2 separate regions of the Homo sapiens genome follow, and region 1 is linked to region 2. Evidence: fine-mapped expression QTL. A gene starts in region 2. The other region holds a variant in brackets. All regions are shown on one strand. Distances are between the middles of the regions.

Region 1 (8,340 bases), 24 kb after region 2:
GCCAGCAAGCCGCTAGAATCTAGGAGGCCTGGAACAGATTCTCTCTCACAGCCTTAGAAGGAGCCAGTTCTGCTGACACTTATCTCGGACTTCTAGCCCCCAGAGCTGTGAGATAAATTCCCATCATTTAAGCCACCCTGTCTGGATGGAGTGTTTGGTTACAGCAGCCCTGCCTGACTGACACAACCGGTCGCTGGCTTTGTGGGTGTGGCAGAGGCAGGAGTGACCTCCTAACCCTGGACACAGCTGCAGCAGTGTATTCTTCACATGACAGTGGAGCTCCCCCTCCAGAGTCCACTGTAGTCAGAGTTATCCAGCTAAACAGAGCCAACGGGATATATAGAGACACAGAAGAGGAGAGTTATCTCGGAAATTGGCTTACATGATTATAAAGGCCAGCAAGTCCCACGTTTTGCCACCTGCAAGCTGGAGGACCAGGAAAGCTGCTGGTATGACTTAGTCCAGGTTCAAAGGGCTGGAGCCAGGGGTGCCACTGGTGTAAGTCCCAGAGTCCCAAGGAGCAAGAACCAGGAGCTCTGATGTCTGAAGCCAGAAGAAGACACATGTTCCAGCTCAAGAAGAGAGAATTCACCCCTCCTCCACCCTTTTGTTCTAGTCAGGCTCTCGATGGACTAGATGCTGCCCCTCTGCATTGGCAAAAAGCGATCTGCATTGAAAAGCCAATCTCTTCCAGAAACACACCAACAGACACATCCAGGAGCAATGCTTTACCAGCTATCTGGGCATCCCATAGCCCAATCAAATTGATACATAAAATTAACCATCACATCACTTCTGATGGCAGTAGAGGTAGCATCTGCCTTGACAGGACAATTTTGTGGTTTTCAAAGTCATTCCCAAGGGTCCTTTCTAGGGCCCACTTCTCTAATTTTCCTAATTGCATAAGCTTCCGATTCCCTGTAGTAAATCCCTTTCTGCTCAAATGAGCAGGAATAATTGCTTTCCTGCACATGGACCCTGACTGGTAAGACTTGATTAGACAATGGACACTGAATTAAATTTTCAATTTTTCACAGTTGCCATACATAAATTCTAAAACAAAGTAAGCTGTCAAGGTCTCGTGGTATGCCTTTTTAAAAGTGATAATTGGACTGGGCATGGTGGCTTATGCCTGTAATCCCAGCACTTTGGGAGGCTGAGGCGGGTGGATCACCTGAGGTCAGGAGTTCAAGACCAGCCTGGCCAACATGGTGAAACCCCATCTCTACTAACAGTACAAAACTAGCCGGGTGTGGCAGCACATCTCTACTAACAGTACAAAATTAGCCAGGTGTGGTAGCATATGCCTGTAATTCCAGCTACTTAGGGGGCTGAGGGAGGCTGAGGGAGGAGAATCACTTGAACCCAGGAGGCGGAAGTTACAGTGAGCCAAGATTGCACCACTGCACTCCAGCCTGGGTGACAGAGGAAGAAACCCTCTCAAATAAATAAATAAATGTGATAATTGCCTAAAAACAAGAAATGCTCAATGAAAATCAAGACAAAAATCAAATACAGAAAACTATAGTGAAGTAAGCCCAAATCACCCCAAATTCCCTCCACCCAGAGATAACTTCTCTTCTTATTTTGTTGAACGTTCTTTCACACATCGAACGGTGCATTTTACATGCACGGTCACATGTGTTACCCTGCACTGTTCAGGGTGCAATTAGTGTGGCCCGGTTTTCCTTGAAACTTCAAGTGTTCAAGCCCCATGTGCTGGTGATAGCAGGAAGTCCAGCATGCAGCCCAGCTGCTCTCTACAGGGTTTTCACTGCCTCCCTCTTACACACAGAGGGTTCCCGTACAGGCGTCTTGGAAGGAGGTGTCCAGACCCATGTGGTCTTGTATCAGTGCACTGACCATGGTGGAAGGACATGAATAACCGAGCAGGAGCTAATCTTGGTGAGTAATATTCGAGTTGTCAGTCAGGTTCACTACTCCCAAAGCAGCCACGGTAGTGGAAGACGGTGCTCCCCCTAGACCAGAGAAGGGCTCCAAGCCAACCACCCAGGGCCCTTCAATGCAAGCCTTTCCCACAAAGATTTGGGAGGACTGGGCTACACCATTGTTCCCCTTCCCATAACCATTCTTCCCTGGCGATCAACATAAAAGGTGTGTTACATCCTTCTCTCAGGACAATGAGTTAATTCACCCTCCCCTGCCATTCCCAAAGATACTACCTTTGGGCACTCCACAGTGACTTCCTGTCCTGGCCTATCTGTGAAGTAGATTAGGGAAGAGACAACACACAAATTCAACCTCCAGCAGGGCGCCTTGCTACTCTCACACTTACCCTCTCCTGACACACACATACGTACACATCATTTGACTTAAAAGGGATTATACAATTTATCTTCTTTAATACCATGCTTTTAAAAAAAAAAAAAAAAAAAGAACAAAAACTCGTGCCGGGCACGGTGGCTCATGCCTGTAATCTCAGCACTTTGAGAGGCCGAGGCGGGCGGATCACAAGGTCAGGAGATCAAGACCATCCTGGCTAACACGGTGAAACCCCATCTCTATTAAAAATACAAAAAATTAGCCAGGCGTGGTGGCACATACCTGTAGTCCCAGCTACTTGGGAGGCTGAGGTGGGAGAATCGCTTGAACCCGGGAGGCAGAGGTTGCAGTGAGCCGGGATCGCACCATTGCACTCCAGCCTGGGTTACACAGTGAGACTCCATCTCAAAAAAAAAAAAAAAAAAAAAAACTCAATAGCAAGTTGTAGACAGTTTTTTGTTTGTTTTGTTCTGTTTTGTTTTGTTTTGTTTTGTTTTGTTTTGTTTTGAGACAAGGTCTCATTCTATAGCCCAGACTGGAATGCAGTGATGCAATCTCGGCTTACTGTAGCCTCTGCCTCCCAGGCTCAAGTGATCCTCCCACTTCAGCCTCCCAAGGAGCTGGGATTACAGGCACAGTCCACCATGCCCAGCTAATTTTTTGTATTTTTTATAGAGACGGGGTTTCACCGTGTTGCCCAGGATGGTCTCAAACTCCTGGGCTCAAGAGATCCTCCTGCCTCAGCCTCCCAAAGTGCTGGGATTACAGGTGTGAGCCACCACGCCTAGCCATGTGGGCAGCTTTCCATGGTATGATGCTTTTGAGAAAATGGTTGGATTGCAAGGCAAATAATTATAGGCATTTCATCACTAATTGTCCATATTCCCACCTCCCACATACCAACTCTACCAACAAAAAAAAAGTTTTATGTTCATTGAAGAGAACATATGGGGCTTGATTTTTAACTCAGGGGTTATGGGCCTTTTCAATATAAAATTGTTTCCCAACTGGCCACCTCTGAGCTGAGCCTCCTGGGTAGAATTAGTGTGAATTCAGGGTTGGAGATTAGGGACAGGTTGGGAGGTGAGAACAGAAAGGGTGAAGTGAAGCCCATACGATCTCAGGGCTGGGAAGGGACTTGCCAAGTTGTCCAGCCTCTGCTTGCATTCCCTTAATAACAGGGAACTCACCACTTTACCAAGACAGCTTGTTAGCCCACTTCATCCTTGGTTAGTTCCACTGGCTTAAAAAGTATTTCCCATGTGGATCTAGATTCCATCTTCCTAAAGGTTCCAACTGTACCAATTCAAGGTCTTCCTTGGTCACTCTGTAGAGAAGTAGAGCCGGCTCTCCCAGGGCCCATGAGTCCTCTATTCTCCTGGACAGGGTCCCCCTCCCCCTGACTAAATACACCATCTGAAAACACAGGACTCAACGATGCAAACTCACTCTCATACTCAGCTCCTAACAGGAACCTCCCTTCACCTCCCAAGAAGCCTTACTCACACATACCAAGCCGCAGTCTGTCGACCTGTTTTCTCTAGGAATGGAGGGATTTCAAGGCTGCCTCTCCCAGTCTGGAAAGAAAAGCCACTTCACAGAATGAGT[T/G]GTTCATAATGTAAAGTGTTCATAACTCCCAAGAGACAGTATGGGCAGGAAATAGAAACAGCTTCCAAATATTTGAGACAGATTTATGGACACTGAGTCACAAATGGCTGCCATATACTTCGCCTTTTGAGCTAGTCTGGTGGCAGAACACCTCTCTCCTGATATTCAAGGACCTGTCTCCAGGTCGCTTCAGTTCCTTGTCTTGCCTCTCGCAATGGGCTTTCTGCTGACCAAGCCCATTGACTCATGGGCGTAGCCGACTAAAGCACTCGGCCAGGTGCAGAGTTTTTGGGCATTTCAATGGTGGGGGTCTCCCCACAGCTTGCACTGCTAGTTTTTCTGTTTGTTCTTGATGACGAACTCTCTACTGTTTATACAGTAGCAGAACTCACAGAAGCATAACTTACGTTTCACAGCCTCCAGAGTGGACTTTACATAAACACGATGTTTCTGTTAGGCCGGCTTTATCTTCCCTCTAGAGTCTGTCAGTGGTGCTTTGGAGTATTCGACTGGGCCACTGTGCAGGGTTGGGGAGTGGTGTCACAAGCCTTCCCTAACCCACCATCTCTGACCTGCACCCCAGGGCATGCACATGAACGGAATTCATCTTCTTGGTTTGGAAAAGAAGGGGGTGACATTAGTGGCGAAACCTCCGTGTAGAGCTCTCGCACCGCAACTCTGAGTCATAGCTTACATCGATCAAGCACTCACTCTGAAGCAGGCTCGGGGCTAAACCTTCACAACCATTGACTCTGTGCTACAGAGGAGACAGTGATCTTCACAGAAGTTAGTTCCCAGAGGGCTTTCCCCAGCCCCACCATTGGGAGCAGAGGGGCAGGGCTGAGCCCAGTCTCACTCGAGTCCTGCTCACACCTTCCTCCAGGACTGCACGGGCCACCTCGCCCAGCCCTCATGGCAATGCTGAAGGCAGGTGTGATTCTCGCCATTTTACCCAAGGGGAAAGGGAGGCACCGGGGGAAAGGGAGGCTGGGAGCGGCAGACCTCACAGCTAGGAAGTGGCCAAGGCAGGAAGAAGCCCACCGGCCTTTCAACACCAACAGAATTCTTTCCTCAGAAGGAATGAGGGAGGGTGGAGGGGTAAGGACATGGCATTTTTAATCCTCCTGTTGGACTGGGAGGCTCTCAAGGTCAGGGACAGTGTCTGATTCAGCACCCCACCCCCTCGGGCCCTCAACTGGCCCCACTCAGGATGTCACAAGGCCCCGTGTGCTGCTGGAGGGGGTCCCAGGGTCGGTGACAGGCAGACCACAGCCTCTGGCCTGGAAGGAGGAGAGAGGGATTGGCAGGCCCATCCAGGCTGGGGGTCTGAGGAACTGTGAATGAGGCCGTGAACAGAGACCGCTGGGGTCCAGCAGGCCTGGCTGCAGAAGGGAAGCTCTGCGCAGTGGAAGGCAGGACCCGGTGGCAGCCCTGGGAGCAGGCCCCGCTGGCCCCTGGGAGAAGACCTCCATGGGCCTCAGCACGACACTCCTAGGCTGGCAGCCGAGGCCTGGTTCACGTGATCCCTTGATTTGTGTTTTCTGACCTTTCTTCACAGACACTCTAGGAAGCCTGGGGACACAGAGCCTGCCAGGGGAAGTCACACTCTCATGAAAGAGCTAGCCAGCAAGAAACTAGAACCGTGGACATGTAAGATAGGCACATGCGTGGCGAGTCCGAAGCGGGAAGCAAGCAGAGGGTGTGACAGAATACTGAGGGGGCCAGGGAATGGCTCTTCCAGAGGAGACTTCTGAGTGGGAGACAGGAGCAGGGGAAGGAGCAGCATGAGCTCTGGGAAGAAGGCATTTTTGGCAGCGAGCAATGCAAGTGCAAAAGCCCTGAGGCATGAAAAACACTAAAGAATCTGTAGGAGGCCAAGGTGGCCAAGCAAAAGGAGAAAGAGGGACTCCGGCAAGAGATGGGCATTTCTCAGGACTGCGGTGGCAGGGAAAAGAGAGCCCCCTGAAGGACATTCCACATTCAAACCCCTGCCCTGTGGTGACCCTGCCAGGTGGCTGGGTCAGGATCTTCCCTGTCAGGCCCAGGCCTCGTTTGCATGATGATGGGAGTAGCTTCCCACGGTCTGGGCTCTCCTTCCCCATGTTCTCCTGTTCCCCCAATTCCCATCACCCAGATTCCAGGAGCCAGGACTGGTGTCTCCCCTACTGGAGGTTCCCAGAAAGTCTCAGAACTCCCACTGCAGTCCTGGGACACAGGGGCTGGGGGAGGAAGGAAATTCTCACACAGCTTTCTCCCAGGGAGTTTGCTCTTGTTCCCAGGCTGACAACTGGCAACCCTCAGAACTCTGTTCCCCACCCCCTTCCTCCTCCTCCTCCTCCTCCTCCTCCTCCTCCTCCTCCTCCTCTCCCTGCCTCCCTCTCTCCCCTGCCCCCCTTCTCAGGCTTAATGACTTCCACATGGGCCTCTGGTGGCTGGAGCCAAGGCTCCCAGCATTGTCTGAAATCTCCAAATTTAGAAGAAATATGAAAATTGTCAACCACTCCTTCCTTAGGGGGTAAAAGCAACATTCAGCACCGGGGGCAGGTCAAGGCAAGGTAGTCACGTGGGGGGTGCCTGGGCCAATGGGGGGCCCTGGGAGGGCTCAGCACCCGCCTCGCCCCAATACGGGGCTTGCCTCTTCAGCTCATATAAGGTAAAAGGCAGAGTGGCCTCTGTGGCCAGGGAGCCGCAGGCAAGGGACTAAGGGGAGGGGGGCTCAGTGCCAGCTGCTTAAAAATGCCCCTGTGGCAGCGAGGGGCACCAGAGGCTGGGTCTAATTAGTTGAGAAGCAGTGACACCCCCAACCACTCCCCAAACAGGCTGGCTCCCGTCTCCAGGCCCCAAGGAGCCACACCTGGACCAGACCCCAGGAAAGGTAAGCACCAACGGCAGACCTGGGATCCGTGGGTGGGGGCCTCTGGGAATTTCCCTAGGGGGATGCTGCATCTGGGGGTCTTGCTGTCTTGCTAACTGGCTCTGTCCCTTTCTGGACACAGATTCTCTGGGTCTCAGTTTCCCCATCTGTACAGGGGCTGGAGTCAATGATCTCTAAGCATCCATCCAGCTGATCGGCTCTAGTTCTATGGTCCTGTTGGCTTCTAGGATTCCTTGTTGTTGTAGTCAATTGGGGGAAGAAGGTGCAGAGGGAGTGCACAGAGTTAACATCCTATCAGCCCAAGCTTCACCTCGGCACCCGAGTCTCAGGCAGTCTCCCTGGCTTCTACATAGGCAGTGCTTCTTCCTCATTGTGTGGGGCTTTGATTTTGTAATTCCAAGAGCCTGGGGCTCCTGGCAAGGAAAATGGTTTTCAAATAATGGTTTCGAGAAACAAAGCTGGGGAAGAGGCAATGTAAGCTCAGGCTCTGGCAGGCAGGCAGAGATCCTGGGAAGGCTGGGTGCTGACTGCACATGGAGCAATGGGAAGGGATGCTGGTGAGAGGAGACGGGGGCACTTAAGCTCCGGCCCCAGCTCTGCTCTCAGTGCCCGGCTCTGTGGTCTTGGGCTGGCCCCCTCCCTTCTCTGGGCCATAGTTTTCCCATCTGTATAGCAAGGCCATTGGACAAAATGGTCCCTCTGCAGATGTGGCTTCTGAGTTGTTTGTGCCTGAGGGACAGCCAGTGTTGGGAAGTTCCCCCAGGAGGTCCCTGAGCCGAGTCTGAACTTTGACCACAAGCTTGGAGTCCAAGCAGATGAAGTCCTGTGGGAGCTTTTGGAGGTTGAGCCTGAGTGAGGGAGAGTAGCTGAAGGTTCTGTGACTGAAGGCTTGGCCAGAGGGGTGCCCCGAGCCCTCCAGATGAACTTGGCTGCAACCAGCCTCTGGTGGGGAAAGGACTGATCTCTGGATTCAACCACACAGGAATGTGGGACATGGAAGTAGGTAAGGGATGGAAAAGATGGCAGAGGGCTTCGCGGGATGAAGCAGTGGGGCCAGGGGACTTAGAGGAATGCAGGAGGCTTGTGATGGGAGGCAGGGCTGGGTAGAGGCAGGGGCTTAGGATTGGAACTTGAAGATGTACAGACAGCATGGAGTCGGGCTCCTCTGAAAACACTCTGGCCACATCCGGAGCCCAGAACAGAACAGTCCTCTAGCACCGGCCTCTGTCTTGTACCCTCCACCTTCCCGCTTCTTGTCACACAAGACCCAAGGCCATCATGGTTCAGAAGGAGGCTCTGAATTCAACTGCCTGGGTCCAATTCTGGCTTGTTTACTTACTGGACAAGTGACCCTGGGCAAGTTGCTTGCTGTTTGAGCCTCAGCTTCCTCCTCTGTAAAATGGGTACAATTCTGAGCTTGCATGGTTGTCATGAGGAGTGAGGGATGTAGGCACATAGAGCAGGATGAATGGGGCTGATGTTACATCGCAGTCAGAGCCCACACCTCCTGCGGGCAAGATACCCTGAGCTATGTTGAGGGAGAAGTGGGAATGAAACCCGGCCAGGGAATGCCC
Region 2 (8,305 bases):
GAGGACCTCAGGGTCAGCCCTTTCCTTCATCTTTGGTCCTTACTATGGGTCAGGCACTGAGCAAGGAAGCGGAGCTACAACCAAGAGAGGACGCTGCTGCCATCGTTATCCAGGGCAATGGGTCTTGATTCCCAAATCGCAGCCTGCTGTGCGCCCTGATCACGTGGAGCTATAAGAAATAGCACTTCCTGGGCCTCACCGCTGGAGGTTTGGATTGGGCATGGGAATCCCTAGGTGATTCTGATGCCGGCACTGGGAAGGCCCAGGTCCAGCATAAGAGACAGACTGGAACACCGCATGGAAGCGCCACACCTGAGAAGGGCGTCCGAGGCCCACAGAGCAGAGGAAGTGACATCTGGGGAAAGCCTTGCAGGCACTTCCATGGAGACTTGAAGAACAATGAGGGCAGTGCTCTGCATGGATATCTCACTTAACAAGACTCTGAGGTACTACTGTTGCCTCCATTTACATTGAGGAAACTGAGGCCCAGAAAGGCTAATCCATTTGCCCAAAGCCTCACAGGCAAGTAAGAGGCAGAGCTAGGGTTCGAACCCAAGCACCCAGACCTCTGAATCTGAGATCTTAACCATTACAATGACTGGGGCACAGGAAAGGTCCCCACCCCCCAAAGACAGCTTGCCACCACTGCCCAGCCTACCTGTAGCCCCAGGGAGACAGGCTCCTCTTGTTGGACATCCACAGCTGCAAGTTGACCTCACACTTTCTCTGGGCCAGCTCTGAGCTGTTCCTCAGCTGGGCCACCATCTCCTCGATGTTCCTCTCATACTCCTCCATGCGGGCATACGGTTTCATCCGTGACACCAGGTCCAGTGGCACCTGGTGAGGGCCAGGGGCCAGGGGCCCAGGCCGCCCTTGCCCCTTCCTCTTGCTTTTGGGGCTCCTGGGCTGGCCCAGCCCCAGGAAGATGGAAATGGTAAGAAGAAACAGCTGGGGAGGAAAGCCACAGGTCAAAGGTGGGAGAGCCAAGTCTCTATCTGGGCCAAGACTTGGGGTCCATGGTCCTTTCCCATTGCTCTTAGGGGTCTCCCAGGCTCAGGTCTGACTCTGCCTACCATCCCCCAGCTCTCCCTCCTCAGATTACCCCCTGTTTCCTCTCTCTTGTGTGTTCCAGCCTCTGGTCTTCTCTCAGTCTTACACTCAGCATGCTCCTTCCTGCCACAGGGACTTTGCACAGCCTCTGCCTGCAGCATTCTGCCTCTTCACCTCCTGGACACCTTCCCACCCCTCGTGTCAGCTTTAGCATCGCTTTCTTAGGGATGCCTCTGGACTTTCTTGGGCTCTCATAACCCACACACCTCTTGCATGACTTCAATCTTAAAGTTTGTGTATACAATTCTTTTATGTGTCTGCCCCCAACTCAGCATGGACTCCGTGGGGGCACGTGTCAGTTTCCACACACTGTCATATCTCCCGTGTCTGCGTGATGCATTCAGTGAACACTCACTGAGTAAATGAATGGCTGTCCCCATCGCTGCCCTTCTGTCATTTATGTCTAAGAAGGAAGACAGTGAACAAGAAGACAAACACCCAAGTCTCCCTAGCGACAAGTCCAGGATGGGCCCATTCAGGGTGTGGCTGGAGAAGAGTGGGGCCTCCTGCTTAGCTGTGCTGGGACAATGGCCTGGGAAACTTTTCTGGGGAAGGGACATGTCAGGTGAGGCATGGCAGGCATGGGCTGAGGGAGTTGAAGTCTTGCAGGTGTGGGAGGGGTGGGTTGGGGGAAGATGAGAGAGGAGGTTTGAACTGGTTAAGAACTTTGCTGTGGCCGGGCGTGGTGGCTCACACCTGTAATGCCAGCACTTTGGGAGGCCGAGGCGGGCAGATCACAAAGTCAGGAGATCGAGACCATCCTGGCTAACACTGTGAAACCCCGTCTCTACTAAAAATACAAAAAAATTAGCCGGGTGTGGTGGCGGGTGCCTGTAGTCCCAGCTACTTGGGAGGCTGAGGCAGGAGAATGGCCTGAACCCGGGAGGCGGAGCTTGCAGTGAGCCGAGATCACACCACTGCACTCCAGCCTGGGCGACAGAGCGAGACTCCTCTCAAAAAAAAGAAAAAAGAACTTTGCTGAATCGAATGGAATGTTGATTAAGAGTGGGTGGGAGGAAGAGGGGATGAGATGAAGCTGGGGAGATGGGCAAGTTATGGGCTAAGGATGTCCTGTCCGCCTGCACTGCCCTTCTCCCCTGAGCCTTCCCTCTTCCAGCCATCCCCCAAGCCCTCCTCACACACACACACCCTCACCCATTGCCATCCACTTCTCCCTCCCAGCACCAGAGTATCAGGAAAGCCTTTGGCTCACAAGGAAGAGGACTCAGGCCCGGCAGAAGCCAGACTCCCCAGGAATCCAGAGAGAAGGGACAGTGCCTGCGTGTGAGGCAGAGCTCCCAGGATGGAGGCACCTCTGACTCCTCTTAAATTGAGATAGGCTCCATATGTTCCCTGTATGCCTCACCTCACAGCCCCACAGCCCCATGGCCCATGCCTGCTTTATCCAGGCTACCCAGCAAGTCTTGACCCTAGGAAACAAGTTTCAGCAGAGCCCCTCTTGGCAGAGGTATTTGCTGGCACAAAATCTGCAACAGAGATTCAAGTGCTAAATTCTTCCTTTTTGGTCCTAGATTCTAGTGCAGAAAAAATGTCTCCCTAACAATAGGCTCTCTCTTTAGAGTTTCTCACAGGGCATTCTTAAACTCTGGCTCTCCACTCGGAGAAACGTAGAATAGAATCAAAGTCCCCCTCCCTCACTCTCCAGATGGGACACTGAGAAACAGAAGGACTTGCCCAAGGTCACACAGCCAGGACCTCAGAAGCCGGGTCTCTTTGGAAAAACCCCGATAACTGAGTTTGCCGGGATCTCCCCAGACGCCTCTGGTCTGAAAAGGCTTCAGTGTGCCCCGGCTGAGCCCCGTTCAGGAGCCTGCACTGCTGGCCATGGCTACAGTGACCAGTCTCTGTTTCTTTCTAGTCCTGGGGGAGAAGACAGAGAAGTTGCCTCTGCAGATTCTAAACCAAACAGAGGCAGCCATTAATAAATAGGAAAGAAAAACTGACATATTTGGGCTCTTAAAAAGGGGTGGGGGTGCGGCAGGGAAGCGCCACGTACCAGGTTGTGAGGCCAGTCCATTCCGCCAAGCTGCAAGGTCAGCCTGCAGCTGCTGCCCGCCTGGAACCCCAGATGCCGCCGAGAGAATGGCAGCAACAGGATGGAGCGAAGCAATTATAGCTCAACTGGGGGCTGCTGGGGGAGTGAGTGGGTGGGCTCGTCATCAGCTGGGAGCCTTGGGCCCCCAGCTGGCTGAGCCTAGCGCAGTGGCAGGCGGTGAGGGGCGTGGGGGCAGGCCAGGAGCCGAGCTGAGGTGCCCAGGGGCTGTTGACCGAGGGACAATGCCCTGTGTGTCTGGTGGGGCTCTGGCCGGTGGCACCTCCGCCTGTGGCCTGCGGCCGGCCGCCCAGCCAGCACCCACAGGGCCAGCTAAGACAATCAGCTTCGTTTGCTTAGGGGATGGCAAGGGGTTGAGGGTGGAGGAGGGATGGGCCGTTGGTTGGTCAGGAGAGCAAATGTTCTCAAATTGTGCTGGCCAGGAGTGGGACACAGGCCCCATCTCCCAGGGAAACAGCCTCAGGCACTCCAGCCTCTGCCGGCCTCAGGTGAGTTCAGCAGCCCTAGGAGACCAAAGCCCCACCCCTCTAGATCACAGTCAAGGAAACTGAGGCTGGAGCCAGAAAGGGACTTGTCACTATTAACAGTGAGTTAGAGGTGTCAGAGCTGCTATTCTCACCCTGTCCCCATCCAGGGCTCTATCCACCACCCCATGTTGTTTTTCTTGGGAGACTTTCCGCACAATTTCAGCCTGCTGTGAACATATTTCTGAAGCTGTACGCCCTCACTCTGGCCAAGTTTCAGATCCATGAGGACTTACGGCTGATTGTCCTGGCCTTCCTGACACAGCACTCTCCCTCCTGGGGTGGTCTCCGCTCTCAGAGACTGTGTGGCTGCATGTGAGCTTTACTGTCAGCCTCAGTTCCCTCCTCCATAAAATGGTGGGTGTATCCAGAAGTAGACGGTGGCCTGGCCCATTCCCTCCTGAAATCTTTCTGAGCCTCAGTTCCCACATCTCTAGAATGGGAAGAATCATGGCACCCTCTTAAAACTGCTATAAGGAATAAAGGAAATCACCTATGTTAAATAGCTGGCAACAGTACCTGGCACATAGTAAGTGCTCAATAAACACTTAGCTATTTATTATAGAGATTATTATAAAATAATTGTATAATTATTATAAACATTAGTTGTTCTAATTAGCATTAGAGGTAGCATGGTTCTCATTTCTCTACTGACTCTCCCTTCAACCCCCTCAGGCCCACCCTCCTGGCTGCTGAGAGAGGTCTAGGCCTCCAAGATTCAGGCCACAAGTTTGTGAGGTCGGATGACCTCAGGGTCCAAAGGTCCTGGAATCACATGCTCAACTGACCACCTCCTCTGGCCAATGTCTCTCACCTCAGGTGAACAGCCCAGCCCAATGTAAGCGGGCACATCCACCCAGGGAGGCAGGAATGGCGGGAGGGAATGTGAGGAGGACAGAGGAGGGGCATTGTGAACAGATACTGAGGACGGCCCTGTCGTGCTGAGGGCCGGTCTTGGCCATTTACAGGAATCGTCCGAGGGGAAGAAGGCAGGGTGAGAGGCGCTCCTGAATGTCACAAGATTAATCTGTCCGGGGCAGGCTTCCACAGCATAACTGAGATGCTGGCTGGGGCTCGAGCATGAGAGATGCCACCATATTTGGTCAAATACTAGACAGGGCTCTATTCTACCGTTGGAAACTCCAGAGGGAGGGGTACTCTGAAAATACCTCCTCAGGCAACAAGGGCCCCGCCCCCACCGCAGGCTGTCCCAGCCCCAGCCCCACTGGCCGGGCGGCCTGGCTGTGTTCTGTGCTGGCTCTCTGCACACACTCTGCTGCTGCTAGCAGTGGGGTCCCACAGACATGCAACTGGGGTGACCCTCCCATATCCACAGAACAGTGGCAAACTGAAAGATGGATGCTGGGGTATGGGGGACCCCTGAAACCAACACATTCTCCTTACCTGCTGGAAATACGCACCCCTCACTTCTGCCTCCCCAAGCCAGGACTGACTTGTCAGCTTCCCCTGCTCCAGCTGCAGTGCTTGCTACTTTAGATTTCAGGGTCCCAGCCCCAGAGATGCTGAAGTAGCAGCGCAAAAATCTGCATCTTAGCACGAGGCCAGTTTGGGAGCTACACGGGTCCTCACCCATCATCTGGCCCCCTCCTCCCACCCATTTTACTACAAGGAGACTTGGATAAGGGAGGGTCCTACCCCAGCTCACACAGTGCGTTTGTGCCAGAGCTGGGAGCAGAACTCCGTCTCCTAAGTCATTCATTGTTCTTCCCTCAGACTTTATACAAACAGCTCTGGGCCAGGCTGGGCCTCCTTGCTGGTCTGGTGGAGACCAAAGAGGCAGGCCAGTCCTTGTGGGGGCCCCAGATCCTTCACAGTGGGGAGGGGAGCTTTGGGGTCCCCTGGCAGGTGCTGTGAGGAGTCAGGCATGGGCCCAGCAACAGTCATTGGGTTTCCCATTCCTGGACCATCTCAGACCAGGAGGGAGACCCCTTCTTCCAGTCTTGGTTTCTAGAAACCCCTGGAGGGTCATCTGTCCTTTTTGATGTCCTGAGTGTGAACCCAGGCAGGCCTGTGGGACCCAGCCCCAGGACTCAGTGCCAGGCCTGAGAGGGAGGTGCAGGAACTGGGCTTCCAGGGCTCCCACCCCACGAGTGAGGCTGGGGTCCTTGGGTCTTAACACGCAGAGGGTGGTCAGCATGCGTGAATGAAGGACTGGGCAGATGAGCTACAGGGGAAGGGGCAGTGGGTGGCCGCGGTCTCGCTCAGAGCCCTCTGCAGCAGGCCCCGCCAGGAGCAGTGCTGCACTCACCAGCAGATGGCGCCACTAGAAAGCCAGCCAACCCTGAAAAATGTACTGACCCTGAGGGAACTTGCACTCTGCCACCTCTTTCTCCAAGAGCGGCCCGGGACTGAGAATGAGGGGATGGGGCGAGTGGGTGGGGCCCTGCGCCTGTGCCTGGCTTCCAGAGTGACCCTATTGTTGATGAGGACCAGAGCCTAGGAGACATCAGAGCCGGCCAGGAATGACACAGGCGGTGTCGGGGTCACCGATTCCAGGTGTCGGGGTCACCGATTCCAGGGGTCGGGTGAGGGCTTCTGTCTGCTGAGTGAGTGATTGCCTTTACTTTGAGCACCTGCTGTGTGCCAGGCCTCAGGCATTTGGCACCTGGACACCTTAATTCACAGAAAATAACAGTAACAATAATAGCTGCTACTTAATATCCACTTACTGACTGCCAGGCCATAAGCTAAATGCTTCATGAAATCCTCCAAATAACACTGGGTGAGGTCCTAGTTTTATTCTGAATTACAGATGGGGAAACTGAGGCTCAGCGTGGTTAACCACTTGCCCAAAGTCACAGAAGATTCACAGCAAGTTTGTCTGACTCCTGCACACACTGCTCCCTGCGGTGGAGTAAGGAGAGGGGCGGCAGCCAGGGGTGGAGGGGGAATGTCCAGTTGGTCAGCTGGTCATTGAGCACGGTCTGTGATGGCCTCAGCCTTGACCCATGGCCTCAAACAACCTGAACCCGGTAGGTTCGGGTGCTCACTAAACCCACGCCCAAGCCCAAGTCATCAAGGGGATCCGAGAGCTCCCAGGGTGCTCGTGGGGCACCCAACAGCATTCCTGGTATGTGAACTAAAATATTGATACATTGAATCAAACTGACTATAATACAGGGAGGCCATGCTGGGACAGAGGAGGAGGCCAGAGCAGAGGGACCTGGAGAAGGAAGTGCAGCCGGGAGGGCAGAGGTCAGCCTCCACAGATGGGCTGGCCTGAGTTTCAGCCCTGCCCCTGCCCCTTCACTGCTGTGTCATCTTGGGAATGTTAATTGACTTCTCTGAGCCTTAGTTTCTTCTGCAAAGTGAAGATAATAATAACTTGGCTCTCAGTGGATTGTTGTGAGGATCAAATGAGATAATGCACGTTAAAGCGCTTAGCACAGTCCCTGGCAAAAGTAAGTACCCCATTAATGGTAGCTGCAACTGTCATTCCTACAGTTAAAATGAGTTTTGAGTTGGGCCTTCAAGAATGCTTCTAGTACGTTCCTGGGTAGGAAGGGCATTACGAAGTGGGGACAAGGCTAGAACCAGCAGAAGAATGCAAAGGTGCCTATTTCCAGCGGGCCCACCCTAGAGCGTTGGCAAGGCCAGGGGGACCTGAAGGATTTGGTCTAAGAACTTGCCCAAGTGGACCCAGTAAGGTCAGGGAAGGCGGGAAGAGGCTAGTCGGCGCCTTTGCTGGCTGCGACCAGGAGGGTGCAGCCCCCTAGGGAGGTCCTGGCTCTCCTGCCATGCTGCCCTCCCCTCCCTCCCTGGTAGGAGTCCTTCTCCCAGGCCCATATTTGCACAAATGCTTGCCTCGCTGCTCACTCCAGAGCCCCAGCCAAGAGGTGCTATTTTAAGATCCCTGGACGGGAACATTGTTGGTGGGAACAGCCCCAGCCAGCAAGCTCCCAGTTCTCAAAAAAGGGAAAGGCCTGGGTGAATGGGCGGCCTCTGGGGTGTGCAGAGGGGCTGCCACGTCGACATGACCCTCTGCCCAGGCCAGGTGCCAGCGTCTCCTCCCCACAGGGGGAAGTCAAAGAAATGTGAGTTGGGGTAGGACTCCAAGAGGTGGTCTTGTTCACTGGAGACTGGGTCGCCTAGGCCTCTCTTCTGCAGAGCATCCAGACTTGAAAACACCAAGTTTGTGTTTCTGGGTTGCAAATTGACTCTACACTGTACCAAGTCTCTTGTTAGCACTCACCACCCACAGGCCATCAGAGGTAGGGGATACCTCATCCAGCCCTTAGCAAAGCGGGAACGCTTTCTAAGTGCCTTTGCTGGGTATCATCTCTCTAGGAATATCATTTCTCTCTGAGGATGCACAGTCCATTTTTTAAAACTCTGGTTGTTGAAAATAATTATAATTATAAAAGCTTTCTTTTTTATTTTGCAGAAGCCCTCCTCCTGTGGGGAAAGCACGGCAGACTTCAGGCAATGGTGGTTGGACATTTGCCCTGCCCCTTATTATATGGTCATGTCCACCCCCCTCACTTCAGTGGGCCTCCGTTTCCTCACGGGGTTGTTAAAATGCATTAATCATTAAAATTATTGTTTGCCTGGCACATAATGGTACTTAATATTTGGC

Direction of the effects. Alleles are on the strand shown, and positions count from the first base shown. SD is a standard deviation of normalised expression in the study named.
As copies of T replace G in region 1, the expression in visceral fat of the gene that starts at base 3,215 in region 2 goes down (small effect, 0.24 SD a copy in GTEx).

What was found.
Region 1: its variant is fine-mapped to the expression of IL17B in visceral fat (GTEx, PIP 0.92).

The regions. Positions count from the first base shown.
Region 1 is chr5:149,400,313-149,408,652 of GRCh38, forward strand. It overlaps CARMN (cardiac mesoderm enhancer-associated non-coding RNA), which reads left to right and starts at 6,533. Exons shown (of 5, transcript NR_105060.1): 1 at 6,533-6,766. It also overlaps a transcript of IL17B not described here. RefSeq lists enhancers at 4,581-5,171, 7,022-8,022. The variant T/G (reference allele first, on the strand shown) is at 3,892.
Region 2 is chr5:149,376,078-149,384,382 of GRCh38, forward strand. IL17B (interleukin 17B) reads right to left here and starts at 3,215. Exons shown (of 3, transcript NM_014443.3): 1 at 3,128-3,215; 2 at 659-948. The coding sequence starts at 3,148. LOC101927046 (a long non-coding RNA gene) reads left to right here and starts at 6,159. Exons shown (of 2, transcript XR_245875.4): 1 at 6,159-6,275; 2 at 8,114-8,282. RefSeq lists enhancers at 3,463-3,997, 4,350-5,062, 6,489-7,200.